3 linked regions of the Homo sapiens genome follow. The protein of the gene in region 2 interacts with the protein of the main gene of each other region in a pairwise test. Each region holds a gene or a part of one and is shown on either strand. Other genes may lie near its edges. The genes, in order: PKP2, GTF2IRD1 and ALMS1.

Region 1 (7,109 bases), on a different chromosome or scaffold from region 2:
GAGGTGGGTGGATCACTCGAGTCCAAGAGTTTGAGACCAGCCTGGGCAATATAGTGAGATCTCGTCTCTACAAAATTTTAAAAATTTAAAAATTAGCTGGGCATGGTGGCATGGGCCTGTAGTCCCAGCTACTTGGGAAGCTGAGGTGGGTGGATTGCTTGAGCCCTGGAGACAGAAGTTGCAGTTAGCTGAGGTTGGGCCACTGCACTCCAGGCTGGGTGACAGAAAGCAAGACTCTGTCTCAAAAAGGAAAAAAAAAAAGGGAACACTATGGTGAAAAATTGTTTCAAAGCAGATGAAAGTCTAATAAAGTTTTATACTATTGAAAATTTAACCAATAGTTGTACAGTGCTATATTTTGTGACCAGTTAGCTCACATAATCAACCATGAGAAACAACTTGGTGTATCAGGTATATGCTAGAAAGTACTGGCTATGAGTTCTTAAAACGTTGAATATGCCAGGGACAGAACAGCTCTCCTGCAAGAGTGGGCCACACATACCACATGCCAGTGTGCGACTGACTAATCCATTGCTGTTATCACTCACACGATATACCAGCCACTAGAGTCCTTATTTTTCAGGAGCCCCCTAAGCAATTCAAGAGCTATCTTCTGATATACCAATTTATGACATTTGGGGGGCAATCCTCAAATCACTGCTCTAGGTAATGACAAAAACACATTTTAAATGTCCCCCTCCCACTTTTTTTATTGAGATGGAGTCTTGCTCTGTCGCCCAGGCTGAAGTGCAGCGGTGCGATCTTGGCTCACTGAAACCTCTTCCTCTCAGGATCAAGCGATTCTTGTGCCTCAGCCTTCCGAGTAGCTGGACTACAGGTGTGTGCCACCATGCTGACTAATTTTTGTATTTTTAGTAGAGATGGGGTTTTGCCATGTTGGCCAGGCTGGCCTCAAACTCCTGGCCTCAAGAGTTCTACCCGCCTCGGGCTCCCAAAGTGCCAGCGCTTTAGGCGTGAGCCATTAAATGGCCCTTTTATATCACAGGTGTTCATGTCATATTTTGTTTGAGGTATTAGAATATGTAATTGTAGAATTTGTTATTATAAACTGGTAATTTAGCATCCTGGTGAAGTATTAAATAGAAATATCCTGGAAGTATCTAAATCTGTTCATTTCTCAGCCAGGCACGGTGGCTCATGCCTGTAATCCCAGCACTTTGGGAGGTCAAGGTGGGCAGATCACTTGAGTCCAGGAATTTGAGACCAGCCTGGGCAAAAAGGCAAAACCCCATCTGTACAAAAAAAATACAAAAATTAGCTGGGTGTGGTGGCGTACACCTGTAGTCCCAACTACTCAGGAGGCTGAGGTGAGAGAATGGCTTGAGCCCGGGGGGCAGAGGTTGCAGTGAGCCAAGATGCACTCCAGCCTGGGCAACAGAGACAGACGCTGTCTCATGAATGAATGAATGAATACACTGTTCATTTCTGTAACTGTGTCTTTACTTTGGCATTCCTGCCAATTATTTGCTGAGATATCTCATGAGACTTTAAGACTTGTAAGACTTTATAACTTCCATGGCAAATATCACATTATACTCCCAATAATATAAAAAAAGGTGAATTTATAGAACTCACAAATTATTTTTTGCTTTAAAATACTTACTACAGGTTTTCTTTGTAATGACTTTCAAGTCATTATATTTCCCCTGCCTCTCACGTGCCAGGGTTAACCCCTCCCAACTGATTCATAACTGCTAACCCAACTTTTCTTTTTCTTTTTTTTTTTTTGAGACAGATTTTCACTCTTGTTGCCCAGGCTGGAGTGCAATGGCACGATCTCGGCTCACCGCAACCTCCACTTCCCGGGTTCAAGTGATTCTCCTGCCTCAGCCTCCCAAGTAGCTGGGATTACAGGCATGCGCCACCACGCCCAGCTTATTTTTTCTGTACTTTTAGTAGAGACAGGGTTTCTCCATGTTGATCAGGCTAGTCTCAAACTCCCGACCTCAGATGATCCACCCGCCTCAGCCTCCCAAAGTGCTGGGATTACAGGCGTGAGCCACTGCGCCCGGCCTCTTTTTTTTTTTTTTTTGAGACAGGGTCACTCTGTTGCCCAGGCTGGCGTGCAGTGGTGCATTCAGAGCTCACTGCAGCCTTGAACTCCTGGCCTCAGGCGATTCTCCTGTCTCGGCCTCTCAAAGTGCTGGGATTACAGGAAAGAGCCACCATGCTAGGTCTGTTCCTACTTTAAATCCACCAAATCTGTCAAATGTATTTTCACAAAACTCCTGCACTTTTCATGTTTCTTCCCTGTGGAAATATCTGTGACTCACAATTATCAAATTCTTTAACTTGCATTCAAGATCAGAGGAGAGGGGTGAAGGAGGCTGCCTATAAGGGACACAACTGAACTAAGTTAACTGGGCAAGAGAAGGAAGGGAGGGAGACAAGGAGGGGTAGAAATACCAAGCAAGATAAACTGCCTGTGTGTGTTTGGTGGGGAGCAAGGGTAGTGGCCCCAGGGATGAAGTTTGAGAAGTTGCAGGCATTAGATCACGAAGAACTTGGAATGCTGTGTTCAATAATTTTACTCTTGCAGATAACAGTAAGAAACTGAAGGAATTTAAACTGGGAAATGATGCAATGAGATTTTAGAAAGTTCACTCTAGCAGCTGTGTGGAGAATGGATTGGAGTGGGGCCACGTTAAAACAAAGAGGTTATTTTCTCTTCCAAAGAGATTTTGACAGAAAGAACTGTATCTTACACTACCACTTCTAGCACAGTCTTGTATCAGTACTTGACAAGTTAATTGTTGATTAGTCAGATTACCTGTACATTAGAAATATCCTAGTTACACAAATTCAGTTTGCGCTTAATCATTCAGGCAGGTATGTATTCTGTGGCTCACCAGAATGGAACTAAAATGTGAGTATGATAGTCACATACATGCTTTTGTCTTGGGGTAGATGGAAGGTGCTCAAATAGTTTCGACTGTTCTCTGTCATTCTGGGTATACGGAGAGGAAGGAAAGTTGCTTCCCCAGAATGTAGGCAGACTTTTATTAGAAAAGCAGACTTTGGGCCAGGTGCAGTGGCTCATGCCTGTAATCCCAGCACTTTGGGAGGCCGAGGCGGGTGGATCGGTCAGGAGATCGAGACCATCCTGGCTAACATGGTGAAACTCCATCTCTACTAAAAATACAAAAATTAGCCGGGTGTGGTGGCACACACCTGTAATCCCACTTACTTGAGAGGCTGAGGCAGGAGAATCGCTTGAACCCGAGGAGACGGAGGTTGCAGTGAGCCGAGATTGTGCCACCGCACTCCAGCCTGGGCATAGAGCGAGACTCCATCTCAAAAAAAAAAAAAAAAAAAAAAAGAAAAGCTGACTTTGTTCATTTTGGCAAGGTTGTTTCTATATTTGAATAATATATGTTTACTATCATTCTTTTATCTGTATGGCTTGTGTATTTATCTGTAATATTTTGGTGGCCTATAAATTCATATTATCTGTCAAGAAAAGTTCCCATTTGTTTTCATTCTTCAATGAAAAAGAGTAATCAAGATCCAATAAGCTTGATGCTCACCCACACCCACCCCATAAATAGCTTACTGAGAGATTCAGAAAAAATAATCCATTAAGCTTCTAATGAAGGTTTTCATCCACAAATTCTGGAAATCAAGGAATTGCAGAACTTTGATTATGACTGCTTAGGTTAACGAATGTTATTAAGTCTAAAGCTGATTATTCCAAGAATATAAATATGTGAATTATTTTAATAGTAATGGCAGGTTGTGTTTTCAAATGCTTAAGTTTCTTTTTTTCCAACTGTCCATTTTTATTTAAATCTACATATTGAGCTCTCAAGCTTTTGTCTTTAAACACTTTAAGAACATTACAACTGTTTTTATGTCCAATATCCAATTACCAGAAATGGCATTATAGAAAAGATACACAGGCCGGGTGCGGTGGCTCACGCCTGAGATCCCAGCACTTTGGGAGGCAGAGGTGGGCGGATCACCTGAGGTCAGGAGTTCGAGACCATCCTGGCCAACATGGTGAAACCCTGTCTCTACTAAAAATACAAAAAATTAGCTGGGCTTGGTGGCGGGTGCCTGTAATCCCAGCTACTCGGGAGGCTGAGGCAGGAAAATCGCTTGAACTCGGGAGGCAGAGGTTGCAGTGAGCCGAGATCGTACCACCGCACTCCAGCCTGGGCAACAAGAGCGAAACAAAAAAAAAAAAAAAAGAAAAGAAAAGACACACAACAGGTTTTTAATGTTTTTATTATGAGAGCACTTGATAGTTTGTTTAGTAGTCTTACTCTACTAGTCAGGGGAGCCAGGTGGCTCACTCTAATAGAAAAATAAAGTTTTCTCCTAATTTATTGTCTATTCCCACTTGCATTGCTGCCTTTTACTGCTAATTTACTTCCTCAGGAGAAGTAGGGTATTTATCTTCATATATTTGTAGACATGCACAAGATACCTGAAGTCCAACATTTGTCTCAGAATTGTATAATTTAAACTTGTTGAATGTCATCTGAGATGGAAATAAATCATCTTATAGGCCATATTAATCATCTGATTTATAAACTCCAGAGGTTTTAGCATCATATTTATTATATTTCATTACTATCATAGTTTGCCAATAATATGCTTGTTCTCTCAGAGAAAAAAAATCAAAACTTTTAATAATTTGTATTGATCAGACTAGGAATTCAATTGTAGGGTAAAATCAATGTTAAAATGTGAAGATAAAATAATGTAACTATGTATAGGCTTATTTTAATAAATGAGAAAAAACTGTAAAGTTGCTATCTAAAACTTTGAGGAAATGTGAACTACAAATACCTAGAATATTTAATACAAAAGCTACCCTCTGTTCCCATGACTGTGGAACTCTTAGCACAGGGCATACAGATAACAACAGTCTTTTAAAAGCCTAAATGAACAGTCTTCCTTCCTTTAAGGTAATTTCCTGCGTCTTATCTGTCACATATAGAACAATGTACTTTCATAATCAAACCCTGCTACTCTGGGTCTACTTGTGGTTTCTTACAGTTCCACGGATTCTGAAGCATCCTTACTTTACCCTCACACAAAACTTCACCCCTAAGAGATGTGTTCTCAACATTTCCAGGGGTGTGAAGTTTTTTTTGTTGTTGTTGTTAACTACCATTTTGTTAACATTCTATTTCACTTACTATAATCAGAAGGATTTCTTTAATTATTTTTGGACTTACCGAACTCAATCTGCTTGGCCCTGGACAAAAAGTGGCTCACAGGCCATATTACACAGACACAGAGGTGCATTTAATCCAGTGTGCTACTGACACCTCACATTCAGAGCAGAGGGCCATGACCCTGCCACCCGCCATCTCACTCTTTTTTTTCCCTTTCCTGATCCCTCCTACTTTCTGAACGATTAGTCACCTTGCTCCCCAGAATTGCTTCATTCCTGGGATTCCTTTTTGTCAAAGGAAGAATTTATGCAGAATTTGAACAATGTCTAACTTTTTTTTAACAGTAGCGCCTAGTAACTACCTTTCTTTTGCTACCCTGAGCCAATTTTCAATTCTCTCTCCAGAATTCACTTTTTTTTTTTTTTTTGAGATGGAGTCTCACTCCATCGCCCAGGCTGGAGGCAGTGGCATGATCTTGGCTCACTGAAACCTCTGACTCCCAGGTTCAAGCAATTCTCCTGCCTCAGGCTCCCTAGTAGCTGGGATTACAGGTATGCACCACCACACCTGGCTAATTTGTTTTTTATTTTTAGTAGACACAGGGTTTCACCATGTTGGCCAGGCTGATCTCAAACTCCTGACCTCAGGTAATCCACCCGTCTCGGCCTCCTAAAATGGTGAGACTACAGGCATGAGTCACTGCGCCCAGCCCAGAATTCACTTTGATCACAGATATTGAAAAGCAGCTTCACCAAGGAAATCACCTAAGATAATAGTGTGCCTCAAGTTTTGTGGTGGATTTCCAAAGAGGTTGTAAATATAATTGCATTAGGAGATTGTTCACTGTCCTTTATAAGTAGTAAATACAATTTAAAACACAATTTTCTCTCCACTCAGATACCTGGGGTGGGGGCGGGGGGGGGGGGAGAACTGTGTAGCAAGTAGTACTTTTAAGGCAAGTGTAATAAATAGGATATGGATGCTTTTAATTTTTCCCTTTGCCAATACTTGCAATTCTTAAATGTCTTCTATTTTAGAAAAATATTTTAACTATTAGCTACAATACAGACTTACTTCACAATGCTGCTATACACCTCTGAAGGCCCCTTCCCAAAGAGTTACAGCCAACTTTAAAATGTTCAGCACAGTTAAAAATAACACCAAAAGTCACTGAGTGATTTACAATGAAAACCACCCAGCTATACTAAGGCATTGGAAAGAAGACAAAGGGTTAAAGACTCTTGCAAGATACTTATCAACAAATCAGCCACATTTATCTCATCTCTGCTTTCAGCAGGTTATCCGCTGTCTCAACCTTACAGGTTTGTCAACAACTCAGAATTCTCCAGGGCCCTGGAGCTAATAGCAGTTAACATCAGGGTCTTTTCTTCCTGGAATTTCTTGTGTTGATACAGGATTTTTTCCAGACCAGCACTGTTTCAACAATTGCTTGTCTGTTTCAACTTGAGAGACAGGATAGTAACATGGAAATAATAAAAATTATACTCAGAACCACCACGAGCCCCCAGACCTTTTCAAAGAAGTTTAATTAAACAATACATACGAACCACCCCTGGTAATTGTTTCATGGCATGCTAATGTTAAATTCCTTTGAAGCTGATTTCCTTTTTGAGTCTTAGAAAGCTGAGGCTTTAAAGTAAGTAGGTGTTGTTTGCTGCCTTATCTCTCTGTCTGATTTGTACTTCTGTGTAGGCTGCAGAGTGTATTTCAGCTTACTGGAAAGCTGCTGTTGCAATCAAAATATTTCAAACGCTTTGTTCCTTAGTTGGAACAGCCAGTCAAGTAGTTGACCCAAGCATTATAGCAGAAGGACCAAGATAGTGCCCTTTGTTCTACCATATCAACTCTGTGAACTGTGAAATATTCATTCTGTTCCCTCCTAGAATGATCTTTCTCCAGTCACCTCCCTATGTCCAGTCCTACTGAATTTTTGAGATCTAC
Region 2 (7,109 bases):
CAGGGAGTCCTCGCAGGCGTCCTCTTAGTCCAAGGCCAAGGACATCATTCACAGATGGCTGAGCAGAGACCCAAGGTCCAAGGGGGTCTCAGCCAGGACACCATCTGTCCAGTCCCACTCCCATGCCCAGACATGGCTCCTTCCAACCTAAGAGGGCCCAGGCATCCTGACCTGCCCTGGGAGGCTGTCCCCTGCATGAGTGACCTCTGTCCCACCCCCTAGACTTGGAGATCCCAGCAGCAATGTTACCACAACAGTCGGAGAAGTCTTGGGCACCGGTGGCCTTGGGCTCTGGCATGGGCCGACTCAGGCCCAGGTCGCTGGGGGCAAGGGGGCAGGAAGGTGCTTCCTGCTTGAGCTCTCGGATGGCGTGGTTGGGGAGCGCCGTGCTGTACAGGAAGCTGGCCATGGAGGAGGAGGTGGCGGTTGGGGGCAGGTCCTGGGGTGGCACCTTGGGGGCCTGGCCATGCAGGCCACAGTCCCGTGACCCCTTGGGAATCAGGGAGACACCGTTCAGCTCCACCAGGGCCTTCGAGTCCCGCCCGCCATCCTCAAGTGGCCTGAGTAAAGGAGAGGACACATGGACAGCTTTGTACATCTGTTTCACACATTGCAGCTCTTCCCCCGAAAACCCCGCATCCCTGCCCTCTGCAGAACATAACAGCCCCATGAGGAGGGCAGGACAGGAGCTGCTCTTCCACTTCACAAGTGGGGATGCAGGCTCGGAGGTGGGAATGGTGTGCCCAGGGCCACAGAGCTAGGCCACCGGAGGACCTGGGCCCTGCCCCTCTGCTCCAATCCACTGTTCAGATCCCGCCAGGTGCGGTTGATTGCCTCCTGTCTCCTGCTGCACCCCTCCCCTTCCTGCCTCTGCATTGCCTGGGGCACTTAGCAGAGATGGGTTCAACCTTAAGCCCTCAGGCTGCCTTCTTGGCTCTCCTGACAACTGGTACTGCCTCAGACCAGCCTCAACAACCTAATCTCCCCTGGATCCCTAATTAACCCCAGATTTACAACCTGAGCAAGCACAGGACATGGTTCTCCCGTTTCTGACACCTAAAATGCCATATTTTTTTTTTAAGAGATGGGGTCTTGCTCTGTTGCCCATGCTGGAGTGCAGTGACGCAATCACAGCTCACTGCATCCTCAAACTCCTGGGCTCAAGCAAGCCTCCTGCCTCAGCCTCCTGAACAGCTGAGATGACAGGTGTGCACCACCACACCTGGGTAATTTTTTTTATTTTTATTTTTTGGCAGAGACAGGGTCTTGGTATGTTGCCCAGGCTGGTCTTGAACTCCTGGCCTCAAGTGATCCTCCCACCTCAGCCTCCCAAAGTGCTGAGATTACAGGCATGAGCTACTGTACCCGACCACTTTGGTGCTATTTTGTCCCAAGTCATGTCTCTTCAAGTCTCTCTGCAATGCAACTTCCCTGGGAAGACTTCAAGGCTTAATGACCTGGCTCAGATCCTGTTCTATGACTTCGCTTTCACTTCACCTCCACCATCAGACTGGGAGCTTTCACCACCAGGGTCCCCCACGGGCATCTCAAGTCCCTTCCCCTCTGGCTAAGTGGCCTCCAGCCCCCGGCCCTGACCCGGCCCTGGCCCAGCCCCAGCCCAGCCCCGGGCCGGCTACCTCACTCACCTCTTGAGCTTGAAGCGGATGCGGTGGCTGTGTTCCAGGATGGCCATGAGGGCCTTGGGGTCATACTCGGCTGGCCTTCGGAAGGCCAGGCCTTCGGGCAGCCCCTGCACGGCCAGCAGCCCTGGCTCCCTGAGCAGCCTCTCATAGGGCAGTGGCACCACACTGGCCCTTCCCAGGGCCTCGCCTGTAGGGGAGAGTCCAGGAGAGGGGCCTGGTATGAGAGGGCAGCCAGGCTGGGGTCGGGGCTGCTGTGCCCCAGAGTGGGGGCAGTGCTGAGTGGCTCCCCTTGGTGCGGGGTTCCCATGGACCCCTCATAACTGCAGACTTTGTGCAGAATAACCGCCTGCAGGCTGGGGGTGGGTGGTGTGGACAAGGCCCAATTGTCTGCATCTGGGGGGCTGGGGCTCCCCCACCAAGCAGGTTCCCTGCTGCCCTCCCCGACCAAGCCCCTCTCCACTCTGGGCACCTGGCTGGAGGGGAAATCGGGGACTCAAGGGCCCAGAGGACAGAGCAGAGGCAGACAATCCGGTAGGAGAAAAGAGGGCAGAAGAGACGGAGAAGTGGGGACTTGCATGAGCCAGGCTGCAAGGAAAAAGCTATAAGGGCTGGGCGTGGTGGCTCACGCCTGTCATCCCAGCATTTTGGGAGGCTGAGGAGGGAGGATCACTTGAGGCCAGGAGTTCGAGACCAGCCTGGCCAACATGATGAAACCCCGTCTCTACTAAAAATACAAAAATTAGCTGGGTGTGGTGGTGCATGCCTGTAATCCCAGCTACTTGGGAGGCTGAGGCAGGAGAATCGCTTGAACCCGGGAGGTGGGTTGCAGTGAGCCGCTGCACTCCAGCCTGGGTAACAGAACGAGAATCCATCTCAAAAAAAAAAAAAAAAAAAAAAAGGTGTAGGGAGGAAGGGAGAGAGACCGAGAGGGGGGAGAGAAAGTAAGAAGAAGAGGAAGTGGAGAGGGAGCAAAAATAGGGGATTGAGAAAAAGATGGGAGAGGCTGGGCGTGGTGGCTCACGCCTGTAATCCCAGCACTTTGGGATTACCGAGGCAGGTGGATCACTTGAGGTCAGGAGTTTGAGACCAGCCTGGCCAACATGGTGAAACCCCGTCTCTACTAAAAATATAAAAATTATCCAGGTGTGGTGGCAGGTGCCTGTAATCCCAGCTACTCAGGAGGCTGAGGCAGGAGAATTGCTTGAACCCAGGAGGGGGAGGTTGTAATGAGCCGAGATCATGCCATTGCACTCCAGCCTGGGCAACAGAGTGAAACTTCATCTCAAAACAACAACAACAACAACAACAACAACAACAACAACAAAGACAGGAGAGAGGAGAAAGAGACAGACTGAGAAGACGCAGGAACAAAGATGGGGGCTCGGGGGCACAGAGGAGGGGAGGCAGGCTGGGGACTGAGGACTGGGCACTGGGATATCTGTTGTCACCTCCATGCTACAGCCCCCACCCTGAGCCAGAAAGAGGCCCATCCTCTCATAGCCTCCTTGAATTCTGCCCAAAGTGGACAAGGGGGGCCAGGGCAAGGCGGGCAGGGGCGCGGGGCCCTGCAGCTGGCAAAAGTGTCGACAGAGGCACAGCCAACCATGCGTGGCAAGTCCCCCATCCCAGGGTGGCCAGTGTGACCACCCAGGGCCTCTGGGTACCCCTCCTTCTGACATAAGAACAGCAGAAGTTTCCTCACAGACCTTTGCTCCATAAAACCAAAGGCTACAGTAGGAGAAGGGATAAAGCCAAATCAGAAATGAATGAGGTGGGACCCTGAGCACCAAAGGGACCTGCCCGATGTTTCCCAGGGCGTGTGAAGACCACCACTGGGGCCCTGAGGCCCTCTGCAACCTGACGCTTCCCAAGGGAGGCCAGGTCTCCTCTTCCTGCAGGAAAGACATGGCTGAGCAATCAGCCTTCACTTAGTCATTCAACAAACATTCTCCAAGCACCTGCTGTTGCTGGGCTCTGAACTGTAGGCTGGAGACAGCTAGAAAGGGCAGACACAGCCCCTGACTCTGGAGAGCTCTTGGGCTGGAGAGGGGACAGGGCACTGTGGGTGCCAAGAGAGGGGCCTAAACCCACTGTGAGGGGGCTTCCAGGAGCAGAGCCTCAGTGCCACGCAGGTGTCTGCCAGACACAGGAGGGGAAAGGCAGTCTCAAAAGATGTAACAGCGCGAAGTCCAGGGCATGTGAAATGCACCAGCGAGTGCTGGAGAACTGGAAGTGGTTCTGTAGAGAGGTCAGTAGGGCCCTGTCACCTAGTGGGAGAAGAAGGTGTGGAGGGGATGAGGATGGGTGTGTGGGCCCCTGTGCCATGCTCAGGGTGATGGGGAGCCCCCGAAGGCTGTGGAGAGAAGAGCTTCATTAATGATCAGACTTGTGCTTTGAGAAGATACCCTTGGTTGCAGGGCAGGTGTAGAGAGCTGGTCTGGAAGCAGGGAGACCGTGGCAAGCCTGGGGCTATTTCTAGGCGAGAGGTGGCAGTGACTTGAGCCAGGGCAGGGACAGTAGGGGTGGAGGTTTGGAAAACGGCTGGAGCAGAACTTCTGTGTCTGGGAATGCAGAGATGAGGAAGGGCTGGGGTAGCCAGTAGCCCCATGCCTTGGGGTCCGGCTTTGCCCAGGGCCCATAGTGGGACAGGAGGGGGCCCCCTCTGCTGGGTGGGGACCGAGGCTCCCACCCTCCCTGGGGCCCCCAAATGGAATGAGGAAGGATCTTACTATAAAGAACATCAAACACCTCCTCTACCATCTTCCGCAGAAGGTACACATCTGAGCCATGTTCCAGGGAGGACCGAGGGAGGCTACGGCCTCCACCCTCGCCCCGCTGCACCTTCTTGGGGTGCTCTGCCTCCGGATCCTTCCACGGGGGCCCTCCTGTGGGACACAGAGCACGCGAGGCCACAGTGAGCACCCGTCTCACCACCCGGCCTTCGAGCTGGGATGTCGCTGCCCTGTGCTGAGCTGCGGAGACTGGCACACAATGTGATACACAAGTGAATGAATGAATGAAGAATTAATGAGTGAGCAAGCCCTATTCCAACCACCCCACTGAGGGCCAGGGCTGGTCATCTCAGAGTTCCCAGGGCTGGGCCTCACCTCTGGTCACCTCTAATTTGCTGTGTGACCTTGGGTTAGTCCCTTCTCTCTCTGAGCCTCAGTCTGTGAATGTTCACGGGAGGCCAGCTATTCCAGCTCAGAACTGAGGTTCGATGAATGTTCCATCTGTGTCTTTCTATTTTTTTTTTTTTTTTTTTTTTTGAGACAGAGTCTCGCTCTGTTGCCCAGGCTGGAGTGCAGTGGCACAAGCTTGGCTCACTACAACCTCCACCTCCAGGGTTCAAGTGATTCTCCTGCCTCAGCCTCCCGAGTAGCTGGGATTATAGGCGCCTGCCACCTTACCCAGCTAATTTTTGTATTTTTAGTAGAGATGGGGTCTCACCATGTTGGCCAGGCTGGTCTCGAACTCCTGACCAAAGTGCTGGGATTACAGGTGTGAGCTACCATGCCCGGCCCCATCCATGCCTTTCTGTGCTCTGACACGAACACTGTCTTGACCAATCTATGCCACCGTTTTCTGCTCTGCCGGAGGGAGAGAAAACCCTCCGGCAGAGGGTTGGGAGGCACCCCCCAACCCCTGCTCCAAGGAGGCCGTGGGTTGCAAACAGCAGGTTCATGCCAGGCTGGGCCAGGGTGGGGACCGGAGAGTGTTGGTGGATCCTTGGGGAATGTTCTAGAAGCTGCATTGGAAAGGAGATGAGAGGAGGGGCCTGCGGCCCCCTCCCAGCTTGGAGCCTATTCTCCTCTGGGATCTGCGGAGCTTGAAATAAACCAGCCGAGTTCCTGGTGCTATAAATAGCGGCTCTGCGTGGCTCTAGAAGGCAGGTGCACCGCCTCAGGCTCTGGGCGGCTGGGGTGCCACACGACCTGCTGCTGTCCATTCTACCCGGCCCAGTCCCCCATCCTGGCCCTGGAGAAGGTCTAGGCTCTGAGGGCTGAGGGGGGTGGGGGGCTGGCTGGGGATGCGGCTGCACCCCAGTAATGCTAGGCCCAGCGCTGGGGGATGCCCTTCCCTGAAACAGCTGATCTTAGGGGTGTGAGGTGAATACTAATAATAGTAACAACAGCTGGTGTCTATTGAGTGTGAACCAAGTGCCAGACACTGCCCTAAGTGCTTGCAAGGTACCAATTCGTTTAACCCTCAGACCCACCCGTCCTCCCCTTTCACAGATGAGTGGGTTGAGGCACAGCAGTTGTGGACCCAGGCGGCCCGTTCTCTTAACCTCATGCTATACCATGGTTCTTTTGAGATGGGGACTCACTGTCACCCAGGCTGGAGTGCAGGGGTGCCATCGTAGCTCACTGTAGTCTTGAACTCCCAGGCTCAAGTGATCCTCCTGCCTCAGCCTCTCAAGCAGCTGGGACTACAGGTGTACACCATCAAGCCTGGTTAATTTTTAAATTTTTTGTAGAGACAGAGGCCTTGCTATGTTGCCCAGCCTGGTCTCCAACTCCTGGGCTCAAGTGATCCTCCCATTTCAGCCTCCCGAAGTGCTAGGACTACAGACATGAGCCACTGCACCTGGCCTAAGATGTTAACCCTGACTATAGCCATGACAGTGCCTGCCCCCTCAGGTTGATGTCAGGGTAGGTGAGTTAGCATCAGAAAAGATGCTATGTACAGCAGGCATTCAATAAATCTTATTGGAACATGGCCAGGCATGGCGGCTCACATCTGTAATCCCAGCACTTTGGGAGGCTGAGGTGGGCGGGTCACCTGAGGTCAGGAGTTCGAGACCAGCCTGGCCAACAAGGTGAAACCCCGTCTCTACTAAAAATACAAAATTAGTTGGGCGTGGTGGTAGGTGCCTGTAATCCCAGCTGCTCGGGAAGCTGAGGCAGGAGAATCACTTGAACCTGGGAGGCAGAGGTTGCAGTGAGCCAAAATTGTGCCACTGCACTCCAGCCTGGGTGACAGGGCAAGACTCTGTCTCATTTAAAGAAAAAAAAAATTGTGTTGGCATAAGTGCATTTGGTCCTTGTGTTCAGGAATACATAGTTAAGAGGAAGAACTGAGCAGCAGCCTTGGCCTTGGTGTCCCCATCTGGAAAAGGCAGATGGAAGTGGCTGGCTCTGGCCTACCCTGGGGTTCACCCAGCCAGTCTCTATCAACTCAGGGGCTGCCTCAATAACACCACATCGGGAATCTCAGACAACCTAGCTTGTTAGGTTCACTCCCCACACACCGCCACCCTGGCTAGACAGGGTTGGGGACCCAGAGATGGGCTAGAGCGCCTGCCCTCGGGAAATGGCGGGCCCGGCCCTCCGGAGCCCTGGGGTACTCACGGCAGAACCTGAGGAAGTCTGACTGTAGCTCCTTCCGGGCATTCAGGAACATTCTCCCCTTCTCTGTGCCCACCACAAAGGCGCTCTCATCGTGCACGGCGACACAGGCCAC
Region 3 (6,998 bases), on a different chromosome or scaffold from region 2:
CCTGTAATCCCAGCACTTTGGGAAGCCAAGGCGGAGTATCACTTGAGCCCAGGTGTTCTACACCAGCTAGACGCCATTAAAAAAAAAGAAAAAAATCTGTGCTCATATGTTTATCACAGCACCGTTCACAATAGCAAAGTCATGAAATCAACCTAAGTGTCCATCAACAACTGAATGGGTAAAGAAAATGTAGTATGTATTAATATACATTGTGGAATATTATGCAGCTATAAACAGAATGAAATCCTGTCCTTTGCAGCAACATGGATGGAGCCTGGAGGCTATTTATCAAGTGAAACAATTCAGAAACAGAAAATCAAATACCACATGCTCTCACTGGTAAGACAAGTGGGTACAATGGGTACACAGAGGCATAAAGATAAATGGGTACAATAAGTACCCACAGACATAAAGATGGAAATAAACAGACACTGGGGGCTCCAGAAGGAGGAGAGAAGGGCTGAAAAATTACCTATCAAGTACAATGTTACACTATCACGTACAAAGGTATATTATTTGGGTGAGAGGTTCACTAGAAGCCCAAACCTCACCATTATGCAATATATCCATGTTAATTACGTGCATATGTACCCCCAAATCTAAAATTAAATTAAAATTTTGTTTAAAAAACTCCTCCTCTAGGCTTCAAGATAAAGTTTGAATATTAATAGTTATTCAAGCAAGAAGTCACAGGACAAAATAAAAGTTAGAAGACCTAGTCAACAAGTGTGGCTTTAATTATGGTCTCTATGTAAATGACTTACAACTTGAAATCTCTAGCCCAGCCTTCTCCTTCAATCTTCAAAACCAAACTCATAATCTTAAGACTCACCCAACCAATTCCACCACCCACTCACAGCCACCACCTCCACCATAAATCTGGCCATATCTTAATATTGGCACAACCATTCAAACAATAACCTAACACCTGGCTACTTCACCTTTCACATCCCATCCGTTATTAAGTATGATGATTTTGCCTCTTAAATATCTCTCAAATCAGTCCACTTTTCCCTGTATCCACCAACACTTCCCTATTCCAAACTTTCATCATCTTTTGCCGGGCAATGCTGCAATGGTCTCCTAATTTATGCCCTTGACCTATGGCTACTGCTCCCCATCCCACCTTGCTATCACAGCTGTTCCACACTCTGCTATACACCTGACCTTTCTGAAACACCTAACTTATCATACATCCCCTCGTTTCAAATATTTTCTTCAACTCCCCAAAGCTCCAGAGATAAAGCCCCTAAATCCTTGGCATAGCACACAAAGCCTTGCAGTCTGTGCTCAAACCACGTTGGCTTCTGGGTCCTGGAAAATGCCATGCTCTCTCTCATCAACAGTACCTTTTCATGTGTTTTTCCCTCAGCTAGACGGCTCTTTCCCTCCCCTTTGCCTGATTAACCTTAAACTGTCTTCAGATATCAGCTCTATCATAACCTCCTCAAGAAGGCTTTCCCAACTTCACTGACAAGGCCAGATTATCTTACTTTATGCTTTCATAGAATATTAGCACATATATTAGTTTCACTTTATGTGATCATCTGAAATCTGTCTGCCTCCCTGTCTAGACCATGAACACAAGGAAGGCAGAGACCAAAAATGTTTGGGTTCACCAAGCTTTCCTTAGCACCCAGCACAATGTGTGGCACATGGTGAATTCTAATAATACATGTTCAATGAATTAAGTACCCCCTGGAATATTCACCAGACAAAACAACAACTACTGCTCATTAGTGACAAAACTCTACACCTTCACTGTCTGTGATGATGGAACTGTTCCATTATCTGCTCTGTCCAACATGGTAGCCACTAGCCTAGTGTGGCTGCTGAGCACTTGAAAACCGGTAAGAACAGACGCATGGAATTTTTCATTTAATTTATTTTTAACTCTTACTCAAAACTATAATAGTTTTCTCTTTAAGATGTAAAAAGCCACACGTGGCCAGTGGCTACTGTACTGAGCAGGGCAGGTCTTGCTCCTCGAAAAGCAGTAAGTTAAAAAAAGGGGGGTAAGGGCAGCAAATTAAATGGAGAGTTATTTTCAAAATGATCTTCGGGGGTCTACCATGAAATCGGCTTTCTCCATTGTGTATTATCTGTGCTTTGTAGTTTTGCAGACTGTTTGGAGCCGCATCACAAGCCTCCTGCATTCCAAGCCCCTCCTATCGGCTGGGGAACCCCTTTATTGCTACAAATGATGGTCCAGGGGAGGAAAACCCGCGGGGAGCCTCTCCAGACTAAGTGATCGCGCGGTGTACATTATCCACATTACTCCCTCAGGGGAGTCCTGCAATTCAGTCAAGCTCATCTGTTCACTGTCTCCCCAACAAGATGCTCCCCAGGCAACCACTCGCTCCGGTCCTACACCGCCTTTTCCCTCCTTCAAGGCTCGACACACCCGTGGTCCTCTCTCAGCGTTTCTCACGGGGAATGCAGGCTCCCCTGAACGTCTACGGGAGTTCAAAAGGCCCAGGACCCACCGAGGGGGAGGAAACGAGAAGTCTTTGCCACAAAGCCTGGGAGACGCGGAGCAGCCGGCCGGCACCTGGGCTGGAGTCTGGGCCGCCTACTAGCCTCAGCTGCGCGCGTTTTCTCCGTCAGGCGGCGTGACCTGCGGGCGGGCGGAGCGCTCGGGGCCCAGCCTCCACCCCCAACTCGCCGCGGCTCCACACCCCTCCCCGGCCCGCCTCACCTTCTCCAGGGAGGTCCGCTCGCCCTCCGAGTAGCGGTGCTGCGGGGGCGACAGCGGAGGCAAAATCCTGCCGGGGTGCGCCTGCAGCCAGGCCTTGGCCTCCTCGTCCTCCTCGTCGTCTATACTTTCCAGATGCTGGGGCCCGTAGTGAGAGTCGGAGTCCAACTCCCGCCCCGCCTCTTCCTCCACCTCCTCCACGACCACTACGTCGTCCACGTTCGCCGCCGCCGCCGCTGCAGCCTCCTCCTCTTCCTCCTCCTCCTCCTCCTCCTCCTCCTCCTCCTCCTCCAGCTCGCCCGGCCATGGCAGATCCTCGGGCTCCATGTTGGTGTCTCGCTCTGGGCGGCAGAGGAGGAGGAGGAGGGGGGGAGGGAGGGGAAGGGGAGAGCCCTGACTGGCGGTTGTGGCCCAGCTTAGGCGCAGTGCCGCCCGCCTGGGCGGGGCCGGAAGACCGCGCGCGCGTTGCTAGGGACGCCGCGCGAGGCCCGGCGGGAACGCCTTAGGGCGGAGGTTTGCTACAGGCGACGTTGCCGCCTCGCCGCCGTCACCGGCCGGGACCTTGCGAACTGTACTGTAAGCTCACAATAAACCGGGACTGGGCGCCTTCCGGGGCGCAGAGGGCCCCGCGCAAGGACAGTGTAGTTCTCGGCTGGGGTCGAGTTTCGCCCCTGCACAGAGAAGAGATCAAACTCTAGGACGTACCCGTTATAATCACACATGCAAATTATAAAGTTTTAAAGGTTGAGTATCTCCTAAAGTGTCAAGCTGTATGGTGGGCGCTTGAACCTAACCGTGGAAAAGTGTCACGGGTTGTTAGAGGGATTAAGAACTGGGCACTGGCATCAGAAAGATCGGAGTTTGAATCCTGGCATCACCACTTAAAGTGGTGTGACTTTGTGTTTATAAAACGATGATAATAGGCCATCGCATAGGATGGGTGTGATAATTAAAGGAAATAATCAATGTGAAGGACTTAGTGATAGGTTGGTTATTGTACAATAACTCATTAGATGCTCACGGTTCTGTGAGACAAGTATTACTATTTCATGTATGAAGAATCTGAGGCTAAAAAAATTAATTTGCCCAAAGTTTCTTACCTAGTAAGTGGCTGACTCAGTATGCCATCCCAGGTCCTCTGTTAGTGTAGGAATTGCCCTGGCCTAGACCAACCAGCTGTTAAAGGATAACAGAGCAAATATTTATACTGATAGTACATATGTTTTGGTGGTTCGTCAATGACTTTGGAGTGCTTTAAAAACAAAGATTTCCTGACCGCTTCAGGAACCTCTACGAAATGAATGGCAAATTAAAGTATCTTAAGATGCCATGTAACCAGACACCACCTGTACCCCCAATAACCTATGGGGAAAATTTTTAAATTAAAATTTTAAATAATAATTATAATCTTGAGATGCTTCACTGTTACCAAAGGAAATAGCCATAATTAAAGTGGAGTCCAGCAAAAAGTCTTCATGGTATTACCCACAATAGTAGAGATACATTGATAATGATGCTGAACCAATGTTGGTGGGGCAATTTTAGGGTTATTGCCAAGGATGTATGTCCTGCCTACCTGTCAATGACCCAATCCTGGCAAAACTTTAAGGGTAGAACATGAACTGGAGCCCAGTCTTGGAGTTCTGTTGAACACCTCTAAATGGACTATGAGTACATTAGGGTTATTTATTCTTAAGGGGTTTAGGGGTTCTCCTTGCCGGAGACCTATTACTGTAATAGTAGAAAAGAATTTATTAATTTTGTATTCCTGAATGTGAAATCTCAATGTTTATCTCCAGTAAGAGGACACACATTTCACTGATATTAAATAACTGTAAAGCTTTACCTTTTTAGAAACTCCGCTATCTTTTTGCATCCACAAATTTCAGGAAAGATAAAGAGAACTAATAGAATTCTAAAAAATAGCTTTCAAAGTTCTCTAACTTCCATCTAACTTCCAAAGCCCAAAGTACTTCTATTTGCCTTGATGGCAATAAGGTCAGTCCATTCTAAGGCCCATAAGTTATCTCCTTCTGAGTTAATAACAGGCTTCCTCATGTATTTGTGAATTACTTCCAATACTAGATGCTACTAATATAAGCTGTTATCACTAATTGCTGCAGGAGACTTCTAAGATTAACTCCTGCTTTATCAACAACAGATGGAAGCTGCATTCTCAAAGCACCCACCTAAGCAGCTTCTGAAGTTAGAGATTTGGTCTTCTGAAAAAGCATTAGAAAACAATTTCCCTTGAGCCTCAATGCAAGAAAAAAAAATGTCAGGTACTATCAACAACTGACCCAGGAGTAAAACTAGAAGACATTGATCCCTGGATTCATATTACACAACTAAAAAGACATGCATCATTTTCTCCTGGCTACCGGACATCCCATACTATTGGAAGACCTCAAACTGAAGATTCCTGGGACTTCCCCAGAAGCTGCTTACTGCAGAAATGGGCAGTTTATACCCAAGACAACAGGACAAGATTAATTTCTGATTCCTTGGCATCTCTTACCCTACCACTAATCTTGCTTATTGCATTTTGACACCCTTGATTAACTAACAAATTGATTTCTCGGGGAGATAACCCTTATCTTCATCCTGTTACTTTTGACTCCCTATGTTCTACTACTTAAAGTAAACATTATTTGGCCAGGTGCAGTGGGTCATACCTGTAATTCCAGCACTTTAGAAAGCCAAGGTGGGAAGATCACTTGAGACCAGGAGTCTAACTAACGTAGGCAATGTAGCAAGACCCCCATCTCTAAAAACAATAAAAAATTAGCTGGGCATGGTGGCACGTATCTGGAGTCCCAGCTACTCAGGAGGCTGAGGCAAGAGGGTCCTTGAAGCTCAGGAGTCCAAGACTGCAGTGAGCTGTGATCGTGCCAATGGGCAACAAAGTGAAACCCAATCTAAAAAAGAAAGAGAGAAAGGGAGAAGAGAGAAAGAGAAAGGAAAGGAAAGGAGGGGAAAGGGGAAAGGGAAAGAGAAAGGAAAGGGAAGGAAAAAAAGAAAAGAAAAGAGACACTTTCTGGAGTGTTTTTCTCAAACCGTAGCTACTGCTTTTAAGGAATTGTTGACAAAATTTAATAACTGTGCTTTCATAGACTTCATCAAGTAGATTTTCTTCTGTAGGTCACTTCTGGTACTTAAGCATTCCCCACAAAGTTCATCCCAAACCTCAGTCTTCTAAAAATTGGACCTTGACCTACACTTCAACAGAATGTTTCCCTGAAGTCATTACAATCCTATGAGAAAAACCTAGCCCTTCAGGAATAGAAACTAATATTGGGGCTATTCTTTATACACTACTCAGGTCATTCTCTTCCAAAACATTCCAGCCTGCTTTGGAGAAACCTGTTTAACTTCATCCAAGAAATCTGCTTATCCTGAGGGAAAGAAAGTTGGCTTGTCCCTGATGTGCTAAATAGCCCTTATCCTCCCAATGCAGTCTGTACTCCCCTAGGGTACTACTTATTTATGGGAACATCTGGCTTGCCCACTAACTTACCCTTTATATTGAAGCTAATTGTTAGAGACCCTCCAGTGCTTAAAATTACCACCCCTCCAGTAGACTGTGTTTCTTTGAAAAGAACACCCAGAAACCAACAAAATGAAGCAAGCACACAATCACAGACTACTTGGGAGAACTCCCAGGAGGGATAACTGACTCATTTTTCATGTGTACTCTGTGAATGAAATTCCTACAACAAAGATAATACAACAGAAAGAGATCAGATCCAAGAGAGGTATTTGACCTTAGCAGACCCCATAGATAGCAAAACTTCTGCTATAGCAGCTCAGAAAACCACTTAAATTTGAATTCCTTAGCCAGAGTTTTCATGGATAATTATATAACCCTTGATTTCTTCTTAGCTGGCCAAGGAGGAGTTTGTATTTAGCAACACTTGTCACCATACTCACATACTACTGGGCCAGTAGAACATACTACAGAGTCAGTAGAACATGAGTAAACTGAAAAGAGAAAATCCTCCTGGCTCCCTAAAAACAGACTCAGCTGGATTCTGGGGCATGTTTTCATTGCCAGGACTTTATAATCTGGGTCCCTGTCTTCAAGACTTTTTACAAAGATGGATAATCATTTTGTTTCTGGTAATTGCTTCTTTTGCACTTGGTCAACGTATCCTATCCACAGCCCTAGTTTCTGCACAGCCATTGTCATATCATATGATTCAACAAATCCTACAACAGAAGGCGGAATTAACCCAACTACAGACTGCATCCTCCAGATCAGCATAAATTTAGCAATAGTGAAAATCTGAATATCATAGATTAA

The links.
Region 1: the proteins of GTF2IRD1 (region 2) and PKP2 interact in a two-hybrid assay, tested with the Homo sapiens proteins (one study listed by BioGRID and IntAct).
Region 3: the proteins of GTF2IRD1 (region 2) and ALMS1 interact in a two-hybrid assay, tested with the Homo sapiens proteins (one study listed by BioGRID and IntAct).

What each region holds. Positions count from the first base shown.
Region 1 is NC_000012.12:32,886,758-32,893,866, forward strand, and holds part of PKP2 (plakophilin-2), read right to left. Parts: intron 1-7,109. UniProt on the Homo sapiens protein: A component of desmosome cell-cell junctions which are required for positive regulation of cellular adhesion.
Region 2 is NC_000007.14:74,512,860-74,519,968, reverse strand, and holds part of GTF2IRD1 (general transcription factor II-I repeat domain-containing protein 1), read right to left. Parts: coding exon 6,998-7,109; intron 4,625-6,997; coding exon of another isoform or gene 4,529-4,624; coding exon 4,373-4,528; intron 1,831-4,372; coding exon 1,647-1,830; intron 561-1,646; coding exon 250-560; intron 1-249. UniProt on the Homo sapiens protein: May be a transcription regulator involved in cell-cycle progression and skeletal muscle differentiation. May repress GTF2I transcriptional functions, by preventing its nuclear residency, or by inhibiting its transcriptional activation.
Region 3 is NC_000002.12:73,381,893-73,388,890, reverse strand, and holds the start of ALMS1 (centrosome-associated protein ALMS1), read right to left. Parts: upstream 3,056-6,998; 5' UTR 3,023-3,055; coding exon 2,699-3,022; intron 1-2,698. UniProt on the Homo sapiens protein: Involved in PCM1-dependent intracellular transport. Required, directly or indirectly, for the localization of NCAPD2 to the proximal ends of centrioles.